Linked DNA regions of Homo sapiens. The protein of the gene in region 1 interacts with the protein of each later gene in a pairwise test. Each region holds a gene or a part of one and is shown on either strand. Other genes may lie near its edges.

Region 1 (3,313 bases):
GTGCTACTGTAACTATATCTTTTGTGGAGTACAATTGGTATGACATGCTGTGTTCATAGATGAAAATGCTAAGTGAGGCACTCTGAAGCAAGTTAAAGTTCACAGACATTCTTGCTTGCCCACCACCCCCCCGAACCCCGCCATGGAATCATCAAATAAGAAAAATAAGACAGATTTTCAGATTGGTGATGGCAAAGTAAGACGCTGGTATTTTGCACTGGCGCAGTCCATTTAGTTGTTGAATTTGTTCAGCATACCTGGATGGTGAGTGAGTTAGCTTTATTTTTCATTCTCAGCAGGGAAACTGATAGACTAGGCAGTTTGGGGAATTTTCCCATTGTCTACTGTCATGGGTCCATAGTATTTAAGTTTACAGACTACAACATTGTCCACAGAAGCCATATTTATCCCCTTGGAGGGAAGGGAAAGGTGTGCTAACTTAGATCATAAAAACAACTGAATTTTAAAACAAGGCAAATGCCACAGTTCAACTTCTCCATAAAAAAGTTAAGTTCATCTCTCCATTCTTTTGCATGCCTACAATATTTCCATATAACAACTGTAAAATACTCTTGCCTGCTGCAATCCAAATGTTATCCGGATCACAGTTCTTGCTGTCATTTCACAGGCATGCAATGTATCTATAGATAGGTCATATCATACCTGAGGAAGATCAGAGACAGCAAGGGAACATTTTCCCCACACTTGAGATGGAAATAATAACAGGTCAGTGGCTAATAAAAAGAAACATGTATGACTTTGTAAAACCCTAAAAGTGATGTTTTCAAGAAATTTAGGTTTCTTTTTTTTATTTTATAAAAAAAATGTTGACATGCAATTTAATTCTATTTCAATTTAGGTGCTGCAACCTGTACTGGATGTTTGGGGATAGAAAGATGAATGGGACATGATTTGTGTGCTCCAATGAGCTCAGTCCAGTGTAAGTGTAAAAGTTAAAGTGCCATATTGTTTATTCAGAGTATATGTTATAGTTTGTGAACCTTATATCATTTGTTAAATGAAAGGTTTTTATAAATCAACAGTAATATTGCCATCCCATGTAAAAATCCTTTGATATTGCCAGGAAACAACTTTAAATCACCAGAAAGCTTTAACATCAAATAATACTTTTAGAAGGAGGGGAAAAGCCTTCCACCTCGACATCGAGCCTATGAAGTATTCCCTAAAAAAGAGGAACTAATCTGAGAAAAGTTTACACATTTTTAATACTCTAAGTTGTAGATAATGAAATTGATTTAAATCAAAGTTAACTAGAATAGGATTCATGTGTCATGAATTATATTGTCTATTGTCTCATAAGCAACAAGTGACACTTATTATCTTGGCTGACAAAATCAGCTACCATTTAATGAACCAAGTTAAGAATAACTCAGGTGACTGATACCAAAAATAAATCTCTAATACAGCTGAGAATCCAGAAACACAAATAATATGTTGAGTAAGTAATAAAAGTGACATTTCAAATTAGTAAGGAAAAAATGGATTATTCAACAAATAGTATGGGATAGCATAACAATTTAGAAGAAATATAAAGTTAGATCTTTCACAAAAATTAATTCTAGCTAGACTAGCAGTTAGTCTTCTACTTTTTGGTTACTCCCTTTTAGAAATTGGAAGCTATGAAGCTATATACCCTGTCCATTTGAAAATGCACATAAGCAAAGAACTTTACAAATAGGTTATAAAGAGAAGCTCAATCTCAGCAAAATAAGGGAAGTGCACATTAAAACACAAGAAACCATCTCAGATCCAACTAATATTTAGCGTGCATACAAATCAAAAGCTGGAAAGGGTGTGGAAAAACAGGAATACATTGCTAGTGAGCATACAAATTGGCACAGCCTCTTTTAAAGACAATTGTGTATCACCCATTAAATTTTAAAAGTCACATACCCTGTGACCTAACAATTCCAACTTTTAATGTCCTAAAGAAACATACATGTGTTCACAAGATAGCCTGTACAATGATGTCAATTGCACCTTTGCTTGTACAGTAGACCCCCTTATCTGCATTTTCACTTTTTGAGGTTTCAGTCATCCAAGGTCAACCACAATACAAAAATATTAAATGGAAAATTCCAGAAACGAACATAAGTTTTAAACTTCAAACCTTTCTGCATAGTATAATAAAAATCTCTCACTATCCCTCTCCATCCTGCCTGGGACAGGAATCATCCCTTTGTCCAGTGTATCCACAATGTATACACTCATTATATACCCATTTTATAATGCCCATTAGTCATTTCTATTATCAGATCATAAAAAAACATAGTACATAGAGGGTTTGGTATTATTCATGGTTTCAGGCATTCAGTGAGGGTCTTGGAAAATATCCTCCATGATGGGGGAGCTACTGTAATACTATGAAATTGGAAAAACCAAAATACTCATCAAGAGGATGGACTATGGTACACATGATGAAGTATTAAGTATCAATGAAAAAGAGAGAGTCCTACATGTCCGGCATGGAAGGATCTCCAGGAGACAATGTTAAAAGTTTGGGGGAAAAATTGAAAGACAATACCTGTAATACATATGATACTAGTGATGTTAAATCACATCACACACACACACACACACACACACACACACACACAAATACTGTATAGTGTACTTCTACAAGTACATATTTGTGTATTATATAGAGAGAAGGTCTGGAAGGATACTAACCAAACTGTCAACAGTAGTTTGGTAGCGTGCATTAGCTTTAACTGTAATGTTTGATGTTTTTGAATATGCATTTATGTATTGTTTGTGTAATGACAAATTAATAAATTAGAAATAAAATAAAATAATGTGTTTTCTTCTTGTCTGCTGCTAATGTTTCCCCCTGGTACCTGGGGTCTCATCATGTTCAGCATCTTTCCTCCCCAGGAATATCTTCCCCCCCTACCTGTTTCTTCTACTTCGCCTTCTCCCATGGCTTTTTCACATCAGTATTTATACAGGCTCAATAAATAACTGGCCAATAAATGAGTAGACCACCTCCCCTAACTGAAAATATGTTCCCTTCACTTGCTTTTTCAGCTCCTTCCTCTTCCTTTCCACTTTTTCCTCTTCCACGTACAGCTTATCACAAACGCAGTCTGGCTTTAGCTCCCATTGTGCCACTGAAACTGTTCTTGTCAAGGTCATTGATGATCACTTTGTTGCTAATTCTATCCCATATCTTATTGAACTGCTTTACTCCTAATTTCTCTTTATGATCATTTCATTACTCTAGTAGTTTTCTATCTCTTCATTTTCTAACTTCACTTTTTTTTTATAAAGAGTTTCCCTTATAAAAAGTATA
Region 2 (4,117 bases), on another chromosome or scaffold:
GCTCTGGAGTGAGCACACCTGGGTTCAAGTTCTAACTCCACAAATAGTATGAAGTTGAGCAATTCATGTCCATTTCCCCTCCTGAGCCTCAATTTCCTCCTCTGTCGGGCCGGGATTATTCATGGGAGAATGACGGAAACAATTCTATACTGCTTCTGGCATAGCACAGGAAGCAGTTTGAAGCCGCTGCGCCGAGGCTAACATGTACCGAAAGCTCGAAGGAGGCAGCATTCACTACCAGCTAGAGGATCTGGGAGTTTTTCAAGGAGGTGGCCGGTGGGAGACACAGAGAGCCAGTCTCAGTGGGAGGCAGCCTTTCCGCATGCGCGCGCTCTAGAAGCCTGGCGGCGGCGAGGGGGCGGGACCAGGTCTCTGAAGGGGTTGCTATGGCACCAAGGGGCCGAGGAGGTTCACCGAACCCTTAAAACCATTGCTCCCTCCCCCACCTGCCACCATCAGGGCCGAGGGCCATTGTTCCCGGCAAAATGGCGTCGGAAATCCCCCTCCCGGTCAGAGGCCTAAGTAAAACTGAGGGTGGGAGTCGGACCATAGGTGGGAAGAAAAACTACAATTCCCAGGGTACATCGCACCCGTCTGCGAGGCGCAGGGCACGTGCCCAGGCCTAGCGGTTACATGCCGTCAAAAATCAGTTTCATAGCTTCCCTTTCCCATCCCTGCTTTGGTCGTTTCCCAGCCCCCGCGCGCGCGCACTGCGGTCCTGGGGGGCGGGGGAGACATGCCGTGGCTGTTGCCCCCGCAACGTAACTGGGAGGCCAGTATTTGTAAATCGGTGCTTCGACTTCTAATCCCAAAGCCGGCAGGTATGGGTCTCGCGAGAAATCCCGGGAGTTGGAAAAAGGGAGTCAGGGGTGGCGGGCGAAAAGGTGCCGGCGGGTACCACCTCCTAACAGCGGCGCTACAGCATTCAGAGGCTCGCGGAGACCCAAGGGTGGGCAGTGGGGGGCTAGGAAGTAGTGTGTGCTTGGACTTTTCTTCTTCTTCTTCTTCTCTGAGGGGAGAGGGTAGAGCAGCTGAGAGAGAGCGAGAGCGCTTCGGAACACACAGGAGATGTCGCGCGTGCTTCCTCTAAGAGATTTTCTCTTTGGAATGGGGAGAAGCCTTTCTCCTCGACGCGCATCCCTCTCTCCCGCGGCGCCGAGGGGGGCGGGAGGCGTGCGCGCACTCTAGTTGGCTGGCCACTCGGCACCTCGCTGCGATAGGGGCGGTTCCGAGTTGGGGCTGCTCCGTTGGCTTTCTCCGCCCCTCCCCCTCTTCTGTTCTCCCCTCCCTTCCCCGCCCCCCCTCCGCCCCTCTCTCCTACCCGTCCGAATTCCCTGGCTGGAGTACGCGTGCGTCTGCTCAGCTCCGGGCCGAGCGCGAGCTTGGGCTCGTACCCCGCTCCCCTCTCTCCGCCCGCTCTTTACCTACCGGCCGTAGCTGGCCCGGTGGGCTCGCGGGGAGACGCTCGCGCGCGCAAGCGCACACGACGCGGAGCGGAGCTCGAGACATCGAGGAGAGGAGTAAGAAGCATCGGAGGAGGCGATCGAGGAGGAGGCGGTGTGTGTGTATGTGTCTATTCTACGGTGTGGCTCGTCGTGGGGCGAGAGGAGGCTCGAGAGAGGGCGAGGGAGAAGCGAAAAGAGTAAGAGAGTCTTCCTTTGCGAGAGCCTCTAATCTGGTGAGGGTCCCGGGCCGGCCGGGGCGCTAGGAGAGAGGGAGGAGGCCGGGGGGCGTGTCTGGGATCGGGCTGAGAGATGAATGGGCCAGGGATGAATGGAGGGAGGCAGCGGCGGCCAAGAGTCTGTTAGGAGTAAGCGCCCTAGCGGGGGGCGGCTTGACCGAAGCAGGGTGAGTGCCTTCACCAGTCGGTACCGGACGAGGCCGGGCTCCGGGCTAAGGGGCTGTCGAAACTGCTGAATAGGCGGAGAGGAAAATGAACAGGGGGAAAGTGGGGAAGGGCAGGTTTGAGGCTGAGGTGCGTTTTTTGTTTTGTTTTCTTTTTTGTTTTTGATTTTTTTTTTGGTTGTTGTTGAGGGGTGACAACTTTGGGAGCTGATGGAAGACCAGGGGACGGGGAAGGTGAGGAGGATACAGGAGGGGGACAGGAGACGGTTGACAAAGGACTGAGTGATCACTTAAGTGAGATTGAAGCTACTGAAAGGGAAGATCGCTTCGGGTGTGGGAAGTTCAGTTGTATTGATGGGAATAGGATGAAGGAAAGAGTAGATTTATTTCAGAGGTTCAGCTGATGTGTGAGGGACAGGATGGGGTGAGAAATATTGCTGGCTTGTGTAAATGTGTTAGGCTCAAGGAGATTCTGAGGTGTTATTTGGGAAGGGGTGGTGTGTGTTGTGTGACTGACAGGTTGGGGATGGGGAGGAGATGGTATGATAGGTGAGGATGAAAGTGGTGAGGTGGCTTCACTGTACTGAAAGAGGTTTTGTTTGACTAGTTAAAAGTGGTGAAACATTTATATAATGGGGTGGGGGTGGAAATCCTGCACGTGAGTATCTCCGTATCTTGGGGGTTGAGAGACTGTTAAAATGAGACTGAACCCTCAAAACAGATGCGAATAGTATGGCTATTTTTTCTTAAGAGTTACTGTTGATTGAGACAATTATATGAATAAAACAGCTTTTGAGTTGTGAAAATCTTCTGCATAGTAGTGATTGTATCCAATTTTTGGAGATACCGTTATCTGTTTTTCATCTATAGTAAGTTGTAATACCAAGAGAACTTTTGAAGAGGTCTTAGTATGTGACAGAGCAGCGGGTGTCTTTTAAGACGGTCTCTATCCTTTGGATTGATGAGTTTAAAAATTGTTTAAACTCGACAGCTCAAGGGAAAGATACCTTGCATTAAAGGATAGCAAAAATGCACTAAAGCTTAGCCGGGCGTGGTGGAGCGTGCCTGTAATCCCAGCTACTTGGGAGGCTGAGGCAGAAGAATCTCTTGAACCTGGGAGGCAGAGGTTGCAGCTAGCCAAGATTGTGCCACTGCACTCTAGCCTGGGCGACAGAGCGAGACTCTGTCTTAAAAAATCCACTAAAGCTGACTTTGAACTAAAATAATTGTACATTTTTTTTGGTCATTACGAATTTATCTTTGAAAATTGGCACTCGCTTTTTGGTGTGAGTTTAAATTACAACAGATTACGTGAACATTTTGTTCTCTGAATACTTATCTTCTGATAAGGATGTCTTGTCCTGGTCTCATTCTGTTCTGGGTCAAGATTAACGGTTATGGATTTTAATCTTTTGTGATTATTTTTTACACATTTTACTGATATATATTTAGTTTTCTTGGAAATGTTGCAAACTTGAGAACATTCCCATGCTGTTTTTCTTTTATTCTGCTTTGATATTGGAAAGAGTGTAATCCTTGTTTAGGCTACCCGCAGTTTGAATACAAAAGGTCATATTCTGTTCATAGTCTCTCAGATTGAGATGAATACTTAATGTATTAAATAGTACAGTAGAAGTATAAAGGCACTGTAAGAGCCTGGAAATGTTGCACTAACTCAACCAGGCAAGGCGGCCTCCCAGTTTTGAACTAGATGTTTCTAGATGAAGGACATTCACATTTTGGGTCTTGAAAGTGTAAGCATGGTATATTTGGAGAATGGAATGAGATAAGGCTGGAATCTTAGGTTGAGGCTGGGGTGAATTAGGAACTCTTGATTGTTTAAGAAGGGGAATAACATAAACAGATTTATGGTGTTTCTCTCTCTGCCTTTGCTTCTGATGTCCCCCTCTACCTGGAATGCTCTCTCTCCCCCTCCCCTAGAATTTGAACTCATTCTTTTAAAACTTAACATTTGTCACCAGCTATTCCTGAAAGCCTTTCCTGGTTTCCCTTTCTTCCTTTTCCCAGCATCCTCCACCAAGCTAGGTTAGGTCCCCCTCTTTAGAGTTCTATCATACCTTGTACATAATTTTATTACGGTACTTTGGTTGGGAGGCAGGTAGGAAAGGTATTTTTCTCCTTCTATCTGAAAAAGAAATGAAGCCCAGAAAAACAAGACATGCCCTAGTAAGTGGTGAACCCCGGAGTTCTGACTTCTAGACCATTGTTGATCTTCATATCACAAGTTTACATTTGCTTAAATAATTATAGT
Region 3 (3,500 bases), on another chromosome or scaffold:
GCAGTTCCTTGAGCCATGGCCAAAGCCCTCTTCTAGTCCCTTTGCCTGACTCATCTTGTTAATGTCCTATCTTCAGTTATTCTCTAGGTGCCAATGACTCCTAAATCTCTATCCCCATCTTACTTTCCTGCCTGTTCCTAACGCCACTACATATAACTATTTGCTAATTAGACATATACATCCAGGTGTACATCCAGATGTCTCAAACTCAATCTGTTGACCTGAACTGATCATCTTTTTCCTCCAACTTGCTCTCCTTCAGCACTGCTTATCTCAGTGAATGGCACAAAATCAACTGACTTGTCCATGTCAGAAACCTAAGCATCAGCCTTATCTTCTCCCTCTCTCTCCACCTCCATAGTAAATCAATCATCAAATCCTGTTCACTCTTCTTCTTTAATGCCTTTCCAATAAATCCTCCAGTCTCTTTCCCTACTGCCACTATCTGAGTTTTTACCACCATCATCTCACAACTGGTCTCCTAAACTAAAACTAAAACCCAAACATATTCTTTCTTAAATGATCTTGGTGCTTTCCACCTGGCCTCCATCCAACCCACTCTCCTCATCTGATCATGTCACTCCCCTGCTCAAGGCCCTTCAAGACCTTTCTACTGTTCTCAGGATAAAACCCCTGCTCTATATCATGACTTACAAGGCCCTTCAAGGTCTGGTGGCTGCAACTCAGCTTTCACTCTCTGGGAACAACTTGAATACCACATTGTGGGCATAAGGACCTTCTGTTTTCATTGCGTCAGTATTCTATTCAAGAACCTAAACATCTGCCCCAGGAACTAGGAGACGAGTCCTATTGCTAGTTATGTTGCTTGCTTTTCTAGTATCACTTACATCCATTTTAAAAGGTAGAAACTGTACTCCAGGATCTCTGAGGTTCTTCATGGCAGATCTAAATTGTAATGATTCTTACCTGTTTCCATGAAGACATCTCAGGAGGCTAGACACTTCAATGTATCACAATGATATCTCTCCATCCTCTGAATTCAACATGTTATCTGTACCACTCATTAATTGTGAACACATGACATCTATTATGCTATGGAAACTGATGTTACAGCTCTCTAAGTTATAGAAAATGATATAACCAAGTTTTAAATTATATGAAAATTTTAAAGACACCAAGACATACTATAGTCTTAAATTCCAATAATTCAGAAGTTCAAAGACAACATCAAAGTCCATTTCTTTCCATAAGGCTAACTCCAATATACTAGCTTTATCCTTAAGCTAGTTGACATCGCAGTTGCAAGATGGCTGTAGTTGTTCCAAATTTCACATATAAACTTGACAATATTTTCTTTAACAAATATCTCTCTTAGGAATGAAAATTCTTTTCCCATAAGTCACCCAGCAGATCTCATTGGTCAACCTTGCATTACATGCCCATGGCTAAATCAGACACAGCCCAGATGCCTGGGACCAGCCTAATCACCCTTCAGCATCACCTCAATTTTTTAGCTATGCAGAAGAGGATGGTAACTCAATAAATGGACTTCTGCTAGAAAGGAAGATGACAAGGGGCTGAAATTGGTTAAGTATGCTTCAGGGCTGAGACAATTTCCTTTCCCCATGTTTGGATTTTTTTCCAAATAAACTCCAACCTCTCTCAGCCATGTTTTAAGTTTTCTCTGATTCCACCTTGAGCCTAACACACAGCCTTACATAAAGTAGATACCTTATAAGAATATTATCAAGTATTAGTTTTATGAAATTCACTGTAGCCAGATCAATAAAGCCTCTATGGATCACCTGAAGGGGCATAGGAATCACTGTCATACACAGAGTCTATTGTCTCATGATTTGCAGTGCTAGGATTCTCCCCTGTAGGGAGCCACTCTTCTGTATGTTCTGCTGGTAAATGATTGGTCACTGAACAACTGGAAAAAAAGAACTCCACCAACCTTCCATTTCTTTCACTTGCCAATCAGAGCGGTGATCTTTCATGGTTTCTCTTGTTTTATGCTGTGCTAAATCTTTTACTAATATCCCAAGCTGAGCAGTGTTGGTAGTCAAGACTTATGGCTTTAGTGGTAGAATTTATGTGATGCCTGGACACTTTTGGCCCCAAATATTTTCCCCATTCTTCCTGAAATTCTTGACTTTATACACATTGACTGAACATGTGTCTTTATTTTGCTGAATGTCTAAAATTACATCATGAGAAGCTCATCTCTTTACATTAACAAGCTTCTACCTTTTAATATCTCCAGGGCTGTCAGCACATGAAGACAGGGAGTAGTCATCATCCACTTCGGAAGGAATTTAACTGACACAGCCGCTCACAGCCACTAACTCTTGATGTTGAAATCTACCTGTCTTGGTGATCATCCCACAAGGTGGTAAGGGGTAGGTAACACTGGAATTTTAATCTTAGGAAAGTGGGGAGGCAGTGATGATATTTAAGCAATCACTTCCAAACCAGACCATACATCAGAAATATATGAGCCATTGTAAATACTGAATCCTAAACCCCAGTCCATAAATTTAAGTCAAACAGTGGCTCAGGACCTAGTATTAAGAGAGCAAAGCTTAGCTGAGGTTGGGCAGGTATAACTGCTAAGCCATAGGGGAGCAAAGTTACTTTATCAGAGGGCGGCCTAAGTCCCATTAAGGGGCTGAGGATGAGACCAGAGAGGTGGTTTAGGGTGGGACCCAGCAAAGGTAGGTTACCTCAAGCTTTCCTTTTTGTTGCAAAAGTAAAAGTTCTCTACTTTATAATTTTGCTTGGGATTGACCCTTCTAGCATTGGATAATGGTCAGTTGCAAAGAGATGAGTGAAAAGGGGTGAAAGCAACAATGCAATGAAGGCAAAGGGAGTATTTGGAAAATATTTTCACACTAAATATGGTATGATCAGGTGTAGTCATAACAAAGAATGGTGTATATAGATGGCTTTAGAGTGTGTACATGTGTGGGCATGTGTGTGGTGTGTGTGTGTGAATGTGTATTTGTGTTCAGGAAAGCATACAGTAAAGAAAAGATTGGATAGGTAGAATGTACCTTTTTATGACATGCCAAGAAATTGGCACTTTACCCTACCTGAGATGGGGAGCCACTAACATTTGAAACAAAGCAGTAATTGGAAACATATAAGTGTCTTAGAAAGATATCATTAGTGAAAATGAAGAGAATGGGTTGGAGAGATAAGAAAAGAAAATCCAGTTTAAAAGTTACATACAGACATAAGATGAGGGACTGACTGGGTGGCAGGAGTTGCATGGATGGGAGGAGAGCCAAGAGAATTTGGAGAGTGGCTGTGAGGTTGAAAACATGGGGACAAATTCCTGGCTTTCATGTTTGTGTGATAATAATACTGCCATTAAACAATGGTAGCCAATAGAGGAGAAAATTCTGGAGGACACGTATTAAATTCAGTTTTGGAAATGTTGAATCTGGCTTACTTACAGACTGTCTAGCTGGAGAAATTTGGTGGCTGATGGAAATACTGATCTGGAACTCAGAAGGGGAGGCTGGCTGGAGATA
Region 4 (3,500 bases), on another chromosome or scaffold:
GTGCTGGATAAGCTATCATTAAGGTTTGTCAGGTACAGTCCTATATCTTCTAAAACTAGAAATTAAAATATAAAAGTTTAGAAAAAAAAAAGAAACACAAACTTAGTAAATAATCTGACCATAAAGCCATAGCATATTAGATTCAAAATTATACTGCAATGGAAATACTGGCAAAGTTTATAAACAAGTAATTCACAAACTACTCAATCTTACCAGTTTTTTTGAAGTACAATTTATAACAAAGATGAGAATTTTGTTTAACCTACCAGTTTGTTAGAAATTAAAAACTATAAATATCAATTGTAGTTATGAAATTGAGAAACGGGTATTCTCATATACTGTTGATATAATTAAAACTGATTAAGAGCTAAAAATCCTTTCTAGAACTTAGAGCAAAGAAAAAAAAAATCCTTTCTAGAAAGCATGTTGGTGATGCATCTTTAAAGTAGACTCAGCAATTTCGCTTTTAGGCATGTATTCTAAGGAAGAGACCAGATAAGTGCACAAAGACATATATACATGAAAGGATGGTAATTAGAGAGTTGTGTATAGACTGAAAGCATTGAAAACAATCTAAATGCCCTCTATTAAGGGATTAAACAGACTACACAGCCAGAAAAGAAAAATAAGAAAAATATGGAGTTATATTAAAAGATATCCACAATATATTATTTGGTAAAAAAAAAAATTCAGGTTTCAGGCTGGGTGAGGTGGTTCAGGCCTATAATCCCAGCCCTTTGGGAGGCCAAGACGGGTGGATCACTTGAGCTCAGAAGTCTGAGACCAACCTGGGCAAAATGGTGAAACTTCATCTCTACAAAAAATATAAAAGTTAGCCGGGCGTGGTGGCACATGCCTGTAGTCCCAGTTACTCAGAAGGCTGAGGTGGGAGTATCACTTGAGCCCAGGAAGTTGAGGCTGCAGTGAACCATGATCATGCCACCTCACTCTAGCTTGCATGACAGTGAGAACCTGTCTCAAAAAAAAAAAAAAAATTCAGGTTTCAAAACAATATGCATAGTAAGATCCTATTTTTAAAGGTAAACATACATCCACATACGTATGTATTTATGTGTCTATATATGCATAGACAAAAAAGACTGGAAAGGCCTACCCCAAACCATTAATAGTGATATTATTTCTGGAGGGTGGGATTATGAGGAAGATTTTACTTTCTGAAGTTAAGACCCAGAAAAGTTAACTAAATTGCATTGAGTCCCCTATTCTTTCTACTATACCATGTTAAATCTTGAAAGTTAAGTAAAAACACTTTAAATAGAAAAGTATTACTTAGGGAATTAGCATAATCTAACAAGTAAAATCAACTAATACAAATTAACTTACTCTTGGGGGCCAATTTTTGACCACAGCTAAATAAAATCTCTCCTTCAGAGATGGGTTTATCTAAAGTTTCAGTTTCAGTGACAGTAACACTCAATGTGCTCTCCAGTGTTGATGAATCAGAACCTGGCATCTGTGAGGGGGAAGGGGCCTTGGTGCCGGCAGGAAATGGCATAAAGGGAACTGGCTCTGGAGGTGGAGGCTGAGCAGGGAAATCCATACTCTCTGGTTCTTCATCCTTAGCCACAGACATTACACTAAGAAAATAAAGACATATTTGGAGCTTGTTAGGTCACTGAAGGCCTGTATTCATTTTGATATAAAAAACAGACTCGAAGACTATGTCTCCTTTAGCAAAATATTTTTTTAAATCTGCACTACTATAATTAACAAGATTTTTAAAAGTTGTTTTCATGCTTTAATCATAGGCCATCTTGAAAGCTCTTCCATACAGAGAGATATAAAATAATATAAAAGTTAACTGATCATAGTAAATAATGATCCACAATAGGGAGAAATTGTTTTCTATTTTATTAACAATATAATAGATACCTTTATTTCTAGCTATTTCAAACCTTTTAAGAAAAAAGGTGAAGGTATAATTTGATAATTTTTCAAAACTCAACACTTATGAAAGTTCTTTCTTTCAAAGTATAAGGTAGTCTGTGGTTTATAAAGCTTTGTATAATATTTCTATGTTTTCAATGGATCACATAAGTCAAACATAAGTTGAAATGTACAGTTACTAGTGAGTATGTTCTCATTTACATAGCTCTTGGATGAAGTTCTTCTTGAGGTGAGTTAGGGTTCTCTTCTTCCAGTGGCAGGTCTCCATCACCCCATGGCTTGGGAAGCTCTGGGCTTGATACCTTCAATTTATCAATGGAAATATCTGACAAAGTTGGGGTAAAAACTGCCGCCGCTGGAGGAGGTGTAGTAGTAGGGGTAACTGTTGGAGTATTAACAAGCATGATGGCAGGCATATCATCTCCTAAAGGTTTTTTTTTAAAAGGACAGAAAAAGATAGTAGTCAGTAAAGAACTCCATAGGATGGCATGATACATTGCTTCAGATATCCCTTACCATTTTAGCACACAAATAATGGCAATTATAATTAATAATAATAATGACAATGGTGGTAGCCATTAATGTGATAATTCCTAAATTTAGTGAAGCGTTAAAAAATACCTTGAGAAGACATCATTGTTAATACCACCATATACTTAAAGTAGTCTAAGCATCTATTCAATTGTATACTTTTTTTTTTTTTGTGAGACGGAGTCTCACTCCCTTGCCCAGGGTGGAGTGCAATGGTGCGATCTCGGCTCACTGCAACCTCTGCCTCCCGGGTTCAAGCAATTCTTCTACCTCAGCCTCCTGAGTAGCTGGGATTACAGGCACGTGCCAACACACCTGGCTAATTTTTGTACTTTTAGTAGAGAGGGGTTTCACCATGTTGGTCAGGCTGGTCTCAAACTCCTGACCTCGTGATTCACCCGCCTCAGCCTCCCAAAGTGCTGGGATTACAGGCGTGAGCCACCATGCCTGCCTGGCCTCAATTATAGACTTTTAAGAAGTCGCAATCAATTCCTAAATTTCCTTGTGAGAAAAAATGATTTACTAAAACCTAGTAAGCAACAAGTACATATACAAATCATGAAATTTAATAGTTGCTAAAATTAAAACCGAGTTATAGAAATAAAGTTTCTACCTTTTTCAGCACATATTTCTTTCACAGGAAAAGCCATATCATGATCCGAATCACAGGGAGAAGAATCTGGAGTCTTTACCAAAACACACTCCTTAGCAGGTGATGAAGGTGAGCAAGGAGGCGTAGGCTGTGGGGTAGGCAGTGGGGTGCACACTCTTGCCTAAAATAAATAAAACAAGATAAACTGTGTTTATAATCACCCAAATAAAAGTAATTTGAAAATAATATGAACTCATTCATAGACTATATATAATTTAAATTGATGGCAGGGTTAAGTACCCTACCTCTTGAACCTCTACCTGTTAGTCTACGATTGGCCTGCAGCAAGTCTCAGGCAATTGAAATAACTCTGCCTCTGAAGTGGTCCCCACAGAATTCTAAGGCACCCTCTTTTAAAATAGAGAAGAAGTAATTTACGTTCCTACCAACAGTGTATAAGTGTTCTGTT
Region 5 (3,500 bases), on another chromosome or scaffold:
TATATTTTTACCCTTCTTTAAGGAAACTGAGTCTTAAGAAGGTTTGGTAACTTGCCCAAGGTGGTACAGCTACTAAGTGGTGGCCTCAGAATTTCGATCAAGTCAGCTGACACCAGAGCCTGCACTCTGAACAACTAGACTGCTTGGGGCTGGACAGTTTGAAATCTTTGCCCACAGATGTCTCTTAGCTGTTACTTGTTTAACTGAAGTACTTTTTCAAACTGTCCTTAGCCTATGGGATAAGGTCCACTCATGAGGACAAGATATGCACACACAAAGCACTAACTCAGATGGCTCAACAACAAAATCCAGCCTCCACGATGAGGAGAGGCACCAGAGTCGGGGGGTGGGGGTGGGGGGCAGCAGATGAATCAAGAATTGCCAAAGATTGATAATTATTGAAACTAGGTGATGGGTACAAGTGGGCTCATCTTACGCGTCTCTGCAATGACAGGGTCACTCCAGTAGAGGGAATGACTGTCTAGCCAAAAAATGCCAAGAACACTCCCCCAAGAAACCATGAAAGCTAAAAGGATTGCTGAGACAGACTTTCAACGACATGGGTAAAGCAAGAGTTAATATGGGCGTGGCTACATCTTATCCCAGGCCTTTAAGGTTACTCTAGGGCCAATAACAAAATAGAGGCTTTGAACACGAAAGGTGCTCACCTGATATTGTGTGTTCATGTAAAAGACATTCATTGCATCCCCAGCCTACCAGCTTTGTCAAGAATAGCCATGTTGGGTCAGAGTTAAAAACAAAATAAGGCCCAGATTTTTAATGTTCACAATTCTTTCAGATACCTCTTAAGAAATAAATTAGTTTTTAATTGATGTGTATGATGTTTTAAATTTTCAAACCTATCGAAAAATGTTTTTACAAGTGCATTTCTTGAAGTTATATGAGTATTACCATTATAAAATGTGAAAGGTAGAAAACATAATAAAATTGAAAATAAAATTATTCTTTATCAAAAAGCTATGTACTAAAATGGCATTTTTCACAGGATGATCTAATGACTTATCAAAACAATAAGGAAAATATGTTATCCTTCGGACCCAAACATTCTGTAAATATCATTCTGAAAAGAGATTACATGCATTTATTCATTTCTCAGGAATGATTCTACATTCCTTGAAACTGTAACACTTCCGTAATCAAGTAAAAAATTTTTCTATTTATCAGCTTTACCTGCTATTTGTACTGAACCATCCTCACCCAGAAGAATATTACCAGCTTTCAAATCCCTATTAGAAAAAAAAATAGAAAATAAATTGTAGGGTACAGACTTTATAGTGTATTGATTCACTCAGGAAGATTTTAAAACATATCATACAACGCAGCTCTTTGACATAATAATTTCATAAATATTAAGATAATAGCACAGATTTTAAAAGTTATAAGGATAGGCTGGGCACAGTGGCTCACGCCTGTAATCCCAGCACTTTGGGAGGCCAAGGTGGGTGGAGCACCTGAGGTCAGGAGTTCGAGACCAGCCTGGAAAAAATGGTGAAACCCCATCTCTACTAAAAATATAAAAATTAGTTGGGCATGGTGGCAGGTGCCTGTAATCCCAGCTACTTGGGAGGCTGAGGCAGAAGAATCACTTGAACCTGGGAGGTGGAGGCTGCAGTGAGCCAACACCGTGCCACTGCACTCCAGCCTGGGCAACAAGAGTGAAACTTGGTCTCAAAAAAAAAAAAAAAAAAAAAAAAAAGGTATAAGGATCCACCTGTCACTTTATAGTTTACTCGTGGGGGAGAGTTAGGATTTTAGAAAGAAATATTTTCTATGAAATAATTATCCAAATTTAATTAAATCATCAGTAAATAGACTCTCTATTTTATGCTTCAGAGTTAGACACTGCCCATAAACTCACACTACTGTCATTCTACCAAGTATTAAAGCCCAGTCTATGTAAAGCTCCTCTACTTCCACTTAAATTTGGGATGCAATTCCAACTTAATTATCTTTCTGAAAAATGAACTTCTCTCTGGTGAGAGACTGATTATAAATACTAATTATAATAATAGATATTATATTTCTTCACCGTATAAAACCTGTGTAATCTTAGTACTTTGAAAAATGACAACTTGCAATTTATAAATTTGATTTCTAAAGTAACTTTTTTCTAATTATTGAAAAATATAGGCCAGCCACAGTGGCTCACGCCTGTAATCCTAGCACTTTGGGAGGCTAAGGTGGGCAGATCATCTGGGATCAAGAGTGTCAGTCCAGCCTGGCCAACATGGTGAACCCCATCTCTACTAAAAATACAAAAATTAGCCAGGCATGGTGCCGCATGCCTGTAATCCCAGCTACTCGGGAGGCTGAGACAGGAGAATTGCTTGAACTCGGGAGGCAGAGGTTGCAGTGAGCTGAGATCACACCATTGCACTCCAGCCTGGGCAACAGAGCAAGACTCTGTCTCAAAAAAAAAAAGAAAAAGAAAAATATAGTAGAAATAATTAAATATAAATTTCAGGGTAGGAGAATTACATTATTAGTATTACTGGTAAATGGCTATTTACTTGCAATAATTCCTAAGAGCCCAAGTAGCACTCACTCACTTGAAACATCAAGCACTCATATTCTATGTGATTTGACTATGTAAAGAATTAACATTTTATGTCACAAAAGAAGATGAGTACCTCTTCCTTCCCTCTCACCACCACATCAAAAATAATTCACATAGTACAATGTTTGGATAGTCTTGCTTGTATTAGAAAGATAGAGATGCTGTCTAGTTCAACTAGTATAATTCAAGAGTAGTTACCAAAACTGATCTTTTTAAATGAGTCCATGTAGTCCTTTTTAGATTCCACTCTTATTTCAGTGAAAGCAACTGAAGCAATCCCAAGGATACCAATATAATTCATCAAAATTTATTCTCTTGTTTCTTTCTTAAGTACTTTTTTCCCATCTATTTAGACTAAGTTAAAGTAATGTCAATACCTGCCTGCAACATGTGTTTCCTTAACATTCTTTACAAACTAGGGCTGAAGATATGAACATCTGAATTTAAACATCTCTGCAGAGGTCACACCTGTGAATCTGACCGTTTCTGTGTAGACAGTCTAAGCCTTCCAAAACCTCTTTAAGATATGAACATCTGAATTTAAACATCTCTGCAGAGGTCATACCTGTGAATCTGACCGTTTCTGTGTAGATAGTCTAAGCCTTCCAAAACCTCTTTAAGAATTGTTGCTATTATTGCCTCTTCCAGAACTCCATTCTTGTGTTCTCCTCGGTTGACAATGTATTTTATGATATCCAACATTGAACCTAAGTAGACAAACAGAAGAATTAAAACATAAGCACCTTCATCACCTTTTCAGAACAAGACTCCATTATGTATAAAATTTAATAGAAACATCAAAATATGGGCTTTATTTAATGCAAATATTCCCAAGGCAAACAAACAATTGAATGGGGGCCCCATGACCAAAAACACTAAATCCAAGTTTGCAAGAGCACTTTCAGTGTGAATTTAACGAGAA
Region 6 (3,500 bases), about 92 Mb from region 1:
AGTGTTGGGATTAGGCACCTGGCCCAAAGATTCCTTTAAAATGTGGTCCATGAGGACTCAAGTCTCTAGGTCCTGCCAGCTTCTTGTCTTTGCTGCAAGCAGGCATGAATCCCATCATTCTTCATTGGTTGGGTCTACTCAGTGTTCAAGGCTCATTTTTTTTTCACTTAACTTTGTGTAATTAGTTCTTGCGTGTTCATCCGTGAACAGCATATGGCATGGCAGCTCTGTGAAGCCAGGGTAACCACATGTAACGGGAGTCCTTTTTGGGGGATGTTTCCCAGATGACAGCAGGCGGTGCTCCCAGGTGAAGTTGGGCTCAGCCGCTGACTTCCTGCTCGACATCAGTGAGACTGACCTCAGCAGCCTGACGGCCAGCATTAAGGCCCCATCTGGCCGAGACGAGCCCTGTCTCCTGAAGAGGCTGCCCAACAACCACATTGGTGAGCTAGGCTACCCTTCCTGGCTGGAGCCAGGACATCTTGGGTGGGAGATGGGGACTCTTGCAGTCCTTTCTTGGGAATGGGTAGCACAATGGAGTGTGATGTGATAAACCTGCTGGGTCACACGCACGATAAATGCCCAAGCGTATTTGTGCATTGTGATATCGACACTCTGGATTGTTGGGTGTCAGGAAAGAGGACATATTTCTATTTCTGAGAGTGTGTCTCTCTCCTGCTTCCTCTCCGCCATCCCCTTACAAGCCCCAATCTGTGTTCTGGTCCAGGCATCTCCTTCATCCCCCGGGAAGTGGGCGAACATCTGGTCAGCATCAAGAAAAATGGCAACCATGTGGCCAACAGCCCCGTGTCTATCATGGTGGTCCAGTCGGAGATTGGTGACGCCCGCCGAGCCAAAGTCTATGGCCGCGGCCTGTCAGAAGGCCGGACTTTCGAGATGTCTGACTTCATCGTGGACACAAGGGATGCAGGTCTGTGTGGTCCCAGGGGAGAGGCCCAGAGCTTGTGGGAACCGACTTATTTTGCTGAGGCAGCGTCATCTTTTCATCCTACCAACTCCTTTTCCTTTCTGAGCATCCTTCAAGCTATAGGTCCTTCTGCCTGCATTGTCTTTTATGCCTCATGACCATTGGCAAAAATGGGATTGTCTTTGTTTTTTAGATGATGAAACTGAGGCTTGCAAGGTTTAGAGCCCCCTCTGCACTAGGATCTGAACCCAGAGCCACAACACCTCGCAAACCCCTGTTTTCTTATCTGCTCTCCCACCCTTGTTCTCAGCTTCCCAGCGTCTCTCCAAGCAAAGAATGTTGGGTTGATTGGCCAAGACCATGGTCATCTGAGCAGAGCTTTTGTGGAAATGAAGCATCTCTTTCTGTTTTCTCTTTGAGATGGTTTGAGTTAGATTGTGTCTCTTCCAAGCTTGCCACACCCCAGTGCCTCCAGTCATCTGCTTTCTTGAAGGATGGCCACGCTGGTGAATTCTAGACAAATTCTAACCCGGGGAGAGGGCTGGAGAATTTCTGGTCCTGGTTGGGAGATACTCCCTGTTAAACCTTCGGATATGCTGACCTAGCTGAGGTAGCCAGGGGCTATTTAAAAATTCAAAATCTCAGATCTGGCTGTGGATAAACCCCCAAGGTGGTACGTGCAGTACTTGGAGGCGTGAGGGCAGAAGGTCCTCCCCAGCAGTTTGTACGGGACACATCATCTATGGGATATTAGTAAATATCCTTAAGGAAAGGCTTCTGTGGTCAAAACCAGGTTCAGCAGGTTATTTCACTATGGGGCTTCTCAGGACGCTTAACCTACTCATCCCCCTCTGGGCTTTGCAAACGAGGCCGCCATTGCTTTCTTTCTGCTATGTAGAAATAGATTGAGGCGTAAGGGTCGGATGTCCTTTCTCCATTCATCAGGCTCCCTCTTCCTGAGGAGCTGCTGTCAGAACAGCCTGGGGCTGCTGTGTTGCAGGTTATGGTGGCATATCCTTGGCGGTGGAAGGCCCCAGCAAAGTGGACATCCAGACGGAGGACCTGGAAGATGGCACCTGCAAAGTCTCCTACTTCCCTACCGTGCCTGGGGTTTATATCGTCTCCACCAAATTCGCTGACGAGCACGTGCCTGGTATGTGCATTCCATTCCCCTCCAGGTGGGATGCTTGGGTTTTCTGTAAATGCTGTGCCTTGGCCTCTGGCCTGCTCACAGGAGCCTTCTTGGGTCTTGCAGGGAGCCCATTTACCGTGAAGATCAGTGGGGAGGGAAGAGTCAAAGAGAGCATCACCCGCACCAGTCGGGCCCCGTCCGTGGCCACTGTCGGGAGCATTTGTGACCTGAACCTGAAAATCCCAGGTGGGCGTCGGGGACTAGTAGGGTGGGGAAGCCTTGGCTCCAGCCTTCAGGGCAGTGGGTGCCTTTGGGAACCAAGTTTAGGCATGGCCCAGAACACAGTATCCAAGTCGGCTGTGCTGACCTTTTCATTTCACTTCATTTCATTATGTTCTTCTATGTTTATTTTCACAGAGTCTCATCCAAGAAAAACAAATGTTTACCTTGCTACCTTTTTCCTCTTCCAAATAAAAATAGCTTTATTGTGTCACATGGGGGAAACGTAGATATGCTTTTAGATTTTTAGATTAACTATCTGTCAAATAGAATCATGTCAGTGAAAGAACTGGCCCTGCCGATGCCAGGGTCTGGAAGTATTTAAGAGGTGGCAGCCCAGCGGCATCCTTCTAGTATTTCTCTTTCATTCCTGAAATTAGAACGAGGGCTGTGCTGCAGAACTCGCTGGGCCACATCTAGCCCTTTGGTGGTGAATTGTTCTTCTTGGGCCCCGATTAGCCAGTCAACAGGTCACACAGTCTGTCTGAAATGTGTTCCAAGTTCTTTCTATAAAGAATCCTTCCAGAGGGAAGCCACTGTGAGTGAAAATTTTGAGGCTCCTCTGCCCAGAAGTTGGCATGTCCTGTGGAATTGCACAAATTCTACAGAGAAGGGAAATCTAAATCGTCTTCAGATGGAGCTTGTGTTGCGAGCTCTGGAGAGGGGGTTGTCTTTCTACACTGCATCTCCCATCCTTCCTAACGAGTCACGGAGCTGTCGACTCCGCCTTCTTGGCTTTAGTTAACAGGTTCTTCTTGTGTAGTCACATCAACGTCGGGTCACATGGGAATGTGGTAAAGCCTCATTACTGTAGAGTTCAGACATGATCACTTAAAAAGAGCTTTATTGGGCCGGGCGCGGTGGCTTACTCCTATAATCCCAGCACTTTGGGGGGCCGAGGCAGGCAGATCACCTGAGGTCAGGAGTTCGAGACCAGCCTGGCTAACATGGCAAAACCCTATCTCTTCTAAAAATACAAAAATAAGCAGGGCGTGGTGGCGGGCACCTGTAATCCCACCTACTCAGGAGGCTGAGGCACAAGAATTGCGTAAACCTGGGAGGTGGAGGTTGCAGTGAGCTGAAATTGCACCGCTGCACTCCAGCCTGGGCAACAAAGTGAGACTCCTTCTCAAAAAAAAAAAAAAAAAAAAAAAAGAGCTG
Region 7 (3,500 bases), on another chromosome or scaffold:
ACACAAAGGCAGACTATAGTAGCTAGAAAAATGATGGTGAAGGAGAGCAACTTCATTTACATAGGTGTATACATTTAATTGGTAAAAAGATGAATGAATCACTGTAATGTCTGAAAACTGGTAAAAGCATTTAAAAACGCTGTTTTTTTTGGGGGGGGGGGGGGTTGTTTGTTTTGAGACAGAGTCTGGCTCTGTCACCCAGGCCTGAGGGCAGTGGTGCGATCTCGGCTCATTGCAACTTCTACCTCCTGGGTTCAAGCAATCCTCCTGTCTCAGCCTGTTGGGTAGCTGGGATTATGGGGCATGCCACCATGCCCAGCGAATTTTTGTATTTTCAGTAGAGATAGGGTTTCACTATGTTGGCAAGGCTGATCTTGAACTCCTGACTTCAAATGATCCGCCCACCGCAGCCTCCCATAGTGTTGGGATTACAGGCATGAGCCAATGTGCCCGGTCTGAAACACTCGTCTTTTATGTCAGGGCCAACTACTTAATATTAAACTTCATGTAAGATTCGTGACCAATATGAAGATGTGTGGTTTTACATGTCATTTTATATTGCACTGTATTTCATCTGTGAAACCAAAATTTTGAGACTTTTGACACTGAAAGCTACTTACAATATGAAGTATAGTTTCATTAAAGATTAGCTCATGCCAACCATACATGGTGCATTCATGTATATGATGATATTGCTAAGTCGTGAGACGACTGCTCTTAAACAGAGAAACTCCCAAGTTACCATGAAAGCAGGAATTATAAATTACAATTAGAGAACATAATTTATAAAATACATTTTTTATCAGTTGGTTATCTTGAATTATATTTACCTACCTGTTATGATACACATGTATCTCAAATAGTAAATAGTGGTCATTTATTTATTTACTTTAAAAACTTATTTATGTAGAGACAGGATCTCGCTCTGTTGCCCAGGCTGGCCTTGAACAATCCTTTTGCCTTGACCTCCCAGCGTTTTGGGATTACAGGTGTGAGCCACTGTGCTCAGCTTTTAGTGGTTATTTCTATAAGCAGATGAAGTAATGTGATTATCTTCTTAAACATTTCTATGGGAAAATCCAATTCAATTTATAATAATTTTTTCTGGGAATATTTCTTGTTTAATGGCCTGGAACTTCATTTGTTCATTATACATGGAAAGGATCATCCAAAACACGAAATAACTTTCCTTTGGAAAGAGAACTGGTAGTAATTTGTTAATCTGTTACTGAGTTAGTAATTCTGTTTGCAATGGGACAGCCCGCTCATGCCAGAGAAGCTCAAAAGGCTCTGAAGGAAATGGTGGGTGAGGTCAGCACATCTTTGAGACCTAATAATGCTGATGGACCATTTGGTCCTCCTTCAAGAGTTCTTAAAGATCTAAGAATTGTTTATTGGCTGTACTGTAAACACAATGAAAGGAGAGTCAAGAAACAACATACAGAGAATTTATCTTTCTCTTCTGAATATTTGCTATACCTCAGCATACATAATCTTGGAACCTAAAACTTCTCTTGGAATCAAGAACATTGTGTTTACCATTCACTTGTGCTTTAGCTGGAAAATATGTATTTATTTGTGCATATGTTAGCTAAAATCTACCTTTTTCTAAATTTCTCAACTTATTTTTAGTTGACCTAAGTGTCCATTACGGTTTTTACCTTAAAGTTCTAGTGTTCCATAATTTTTCTTTCCCCCTTGGTTGCCAGTGTAACTAATTTGGTATTTCTGGCTTCCTTGAAGGGAGACTATGGCATTCACTTTTATAATCTTCTTTGTAACTGTTTACAACTTTTCTATAACTCTTTTAAACAGTTCCATACTACTTTAGTACTAGTGAATACATATGGAATGAAGCTTTTGTTTTTTAATTCTATCACTTACAGGACTGTAACTCTTGACCAGGCAACAGATAATGCAAAAATAATTGGAAAGGCGATGCTAAACATGTTTCATACAATGAAACTAAATATATCAGATATGAGAGGGGTAAGTATATAGTAACATTGTAAATTCTGACTTTGTGTAATGTATCTCTCATTTTTGAGGCTTGCTCTCAAAAGGGTTATTGCTGGTGTATAGGGACTTTATATGTAGGTCTTTAGCTGCTTTGTAATACAAGGAAAAGAGAAACAAAAATTCTTGACTTCCTCCATTTTGACCTCCTTCATTTTAGAATAATTTTCTTAGATTCTTACTGTACTTTTCCAAGGTACCCCTGATTAACCAGGGGCTAATATACATGTCTTCCCTGTTCTTGTTTCCTAGAAGTAGATATGACTGTGAGGAATATGAATACATAAATTTTGTACCTTTAAGTTCCTTTTTAATCAGAAACATACTCTGCATCTGCTGTATGATGACCTAGAAGGGAGTGAAACCACAGGCACATCAAGATGCCTTTGAAACAGGCAAGAGGCATCAAAATGTCAAAACCATAGATTTTTGTGTGGGGTTTTTTTTTTTTGAGACAGTTTTTGCCCTGTTGCCCAGGCTGGAGTGCAATGGCGTTGTATCGGCTCACTGCAACTTCCGCCTCCTGGGTTCAAGCAATTCTCCTTCTTCAGCCTCCCGAGTAGCTGGGGGTACAGGCACCCGCTACCACGCCCAGCTAATTTTTTGTATTTTTGGTAGAGATGAGGTTTCACCATGTTGGCCAGGCTGGTTTCAAACTCCTGACCTCAGGTGATCCACCCACCTCAGCCTCTCAAAGTGCTGGGATTACAGGCACTTGCCCCCATCTCTACTAAAAATACAAAAATTAGCCGGGTGTGGTGGTGCATGCCTCATAGTCCCAGCTACTCGGGAGGCTGAGGCAGGAGAATCACTTGAACCCAAGAGGCAGAGCTTGCATGAGCCAAGATCGTGCCACCGCACTCCAGCCTGAGTGACACAGTGAGGCTCTGTCTCAAAAAAAAAAAAAAAAAAAAAAAAAAAGAACCTTTGTAGGTTTAGTTTTATGTGTGCATATGTAAGTAAAGGGTTGTTCTGGCTTGATGTGGGCTTTGTTGAAAGATTAGTCACTAAGCCAGCCGTAATTGTGATTTCTCCCTGAAATACTGTTATAATGGCACTTTATGGAGGGGTCTGCAGTGTACCTGCTGTTCATCACTCCCGCCAATATTTTTTGAGAAGTATTTCATTTAAAAAAGATAAAAATAGTGAAGTTTCCAAGTAGACTGTCCTCTCTTAATTTTTTTTTATCCTAATTTAAAACCTTAGTTGACGAGAACATCAGTGGAATACAGTATTCCACTTGTTTGGATTTTCTGATTTTAAAGATCTTTTGGTATATTTTGGGAGAATTGGATACTCTGAAGTTTGAGATGAATGACCACTCACTAGCTACTTTAGAAATTGTTTTTGTAATAAGTCATATAGAATGCTGTTTGAATACTTTCATTTACCTTTATTCTAGAAACAGGATCCAGGAGATAGTGAAAAGGATTTGCTGAGGATTTTGCTTAGCTGAATTCATATTTTCACTTTAGTTTTCCTAG

What was found.
Region 2: the proteins of TSC22D2 (region 1) and WNK3 interact in a two-hybrid assay, tested with the Homo sapiens proteins (one study listed by BioGRID).
Region 3: the proteins of TSC22D2 (region 1) and ITGA2 interact in a two-hybrid assay, tested with the Homo sapiens proteins (one study listed by BioGRID).
Region 4: the proteins of TSC22D2 (region 1) and KIAA0586 interact in a two-hybrid assay, tested with the Homo sapiens proteins (one study listed by BioGRID).
Region 5: the proteins of TSC22D2 (region 1) and STK39 interact in a two-hybrid assay, tested with the Homo sapiens proteins (one study listed by BioGRID).
Region 6: the proteins of TSC22D2 (region 1) and FLNB interact in a two-hybrid assay, tested with the Homo sapiens proteins (one study listed by BioGRID).
Region 7: the proteins of TSC22D2 (region 1) and REV1 interact in a two-hybrid assay, tested with the Homo sapiens proteins (one study listed by BioGRID).

Annotation. Positions count from the first base shown.
Region 1 is NC_000003.12:150,463,610-150,466,922, forward strand, and holds the end of TSC22D2 (TSC22 domain family protein 2), read left to right. Parts: 3' UTR 1-2,813; downstream 2,814-3,313. UniProt on the Homo sapiens protein: Reduces the level of nuclear PKM isoform M2 which results in repression of cyclin CCND1 transcription and reduced cell growth.
Region 2 is NC_000023.11:54,355,247-54,359,363, reverse strand, and holds the start of WNK3 (serine/threonine-protein kinase WNK3), read left to right. Parts: upstream 1-1,317; 5' UTR 1,318-1,678; intron 1,679-4,117.
Region 3 is NC_000005.10:52,992,352-52,995,851, reverse strand, and holds part of ITGA2 (integrin alpha-2 precursor), read right to left. Parts: intron 1-3,500. UniProt on the Homo sapiens protein: Integrin alpha-2/beta-1 is a receptor for laminin, collagen, collagen C-propeptides, fibronectin and E-cadherin. It recognizes the proline-hydroxylated sequence G-F-P-G-E-R in collagen.
Region 4 is NC_000014.9:58,486,719-58,490,218, reverse strand, and holds part of KIAA0586 (protein TALPID3), read right to left. Parts: intron 3,213-3,500; coding exon 3,053-3,212; intron 2,333-3,052; coding exon 2,110-2,332; intron 1,599-2,109; coding exon 1,345-1,598; intron 56-1,344; coding exon 1-55. UniProt on the Homo sapiens protein: Required for ciliogenesis and sonic hedgehog/SHH signaling. Required for the centrosomal recruitment of RAB8A and for the targeting of centriole satellite proteins to centrosomes such as of PCM1.
Region 5 is NC_000002.12:168,160,596-168,164,095, forward strand, and holds part of STK39 (STE20/SPS1-related proline-alanine-rich protein kinase), read right to left. Parts: intron 3,286-3,500; coding exon 3,144-3,285; intron 3,138-3,143; exon of another isoform or gene 3,127-3,137; coding exon of another isoform or gene 3,047-3,126; intron 1,248-3,046; coding exon 1,192-1,247; intron 1-1,191. UniProt on the Homo sapiens protein: Effector serine/threonine-protein kinase component of the WNK-SPAK/OSR1 kinase cascade, which is involved in various processes, such as ion transport, response to hypertonic stress and blood pressure.
Region 6 is NC_000003.12:58,147,922-58,151,421, forward strand, and holds part of FLNB (filamin-B), read left to right. Parts: intron 1-284; coding exon 285-443; intron 444-727; coding exon 728-931; intron 932-1,928; coding exon 1,929-2,081; intron 2,082-2,183; coding exon 2,184-2,306; intron 2,307-3,500. UniProt on the Homo sapiens protein: Connects cell membrane constituents to the actin cytoskeleton. May promote orthogonal branching of actin filaments and links actin filaments to membrane glycoproteins. Anchors various transmembrane proteins to the actin cytoskeleton.
Region 7 is NC_000002.12:99,406,518-99,410,017, reverse strand, and holds part of REV1 (DNA repair protein REV1), read left to right. Parts: intron 1-1,886; coding exon 1,887-1,989; intron 1,990-3,500. UniProt on the Homo sapiens protein: Deoxycytidyl transferase involved in DNA repair. Transfers a dCMP residue from dCTP to the 3'-end of a DNA primer in a template-dependent reaction.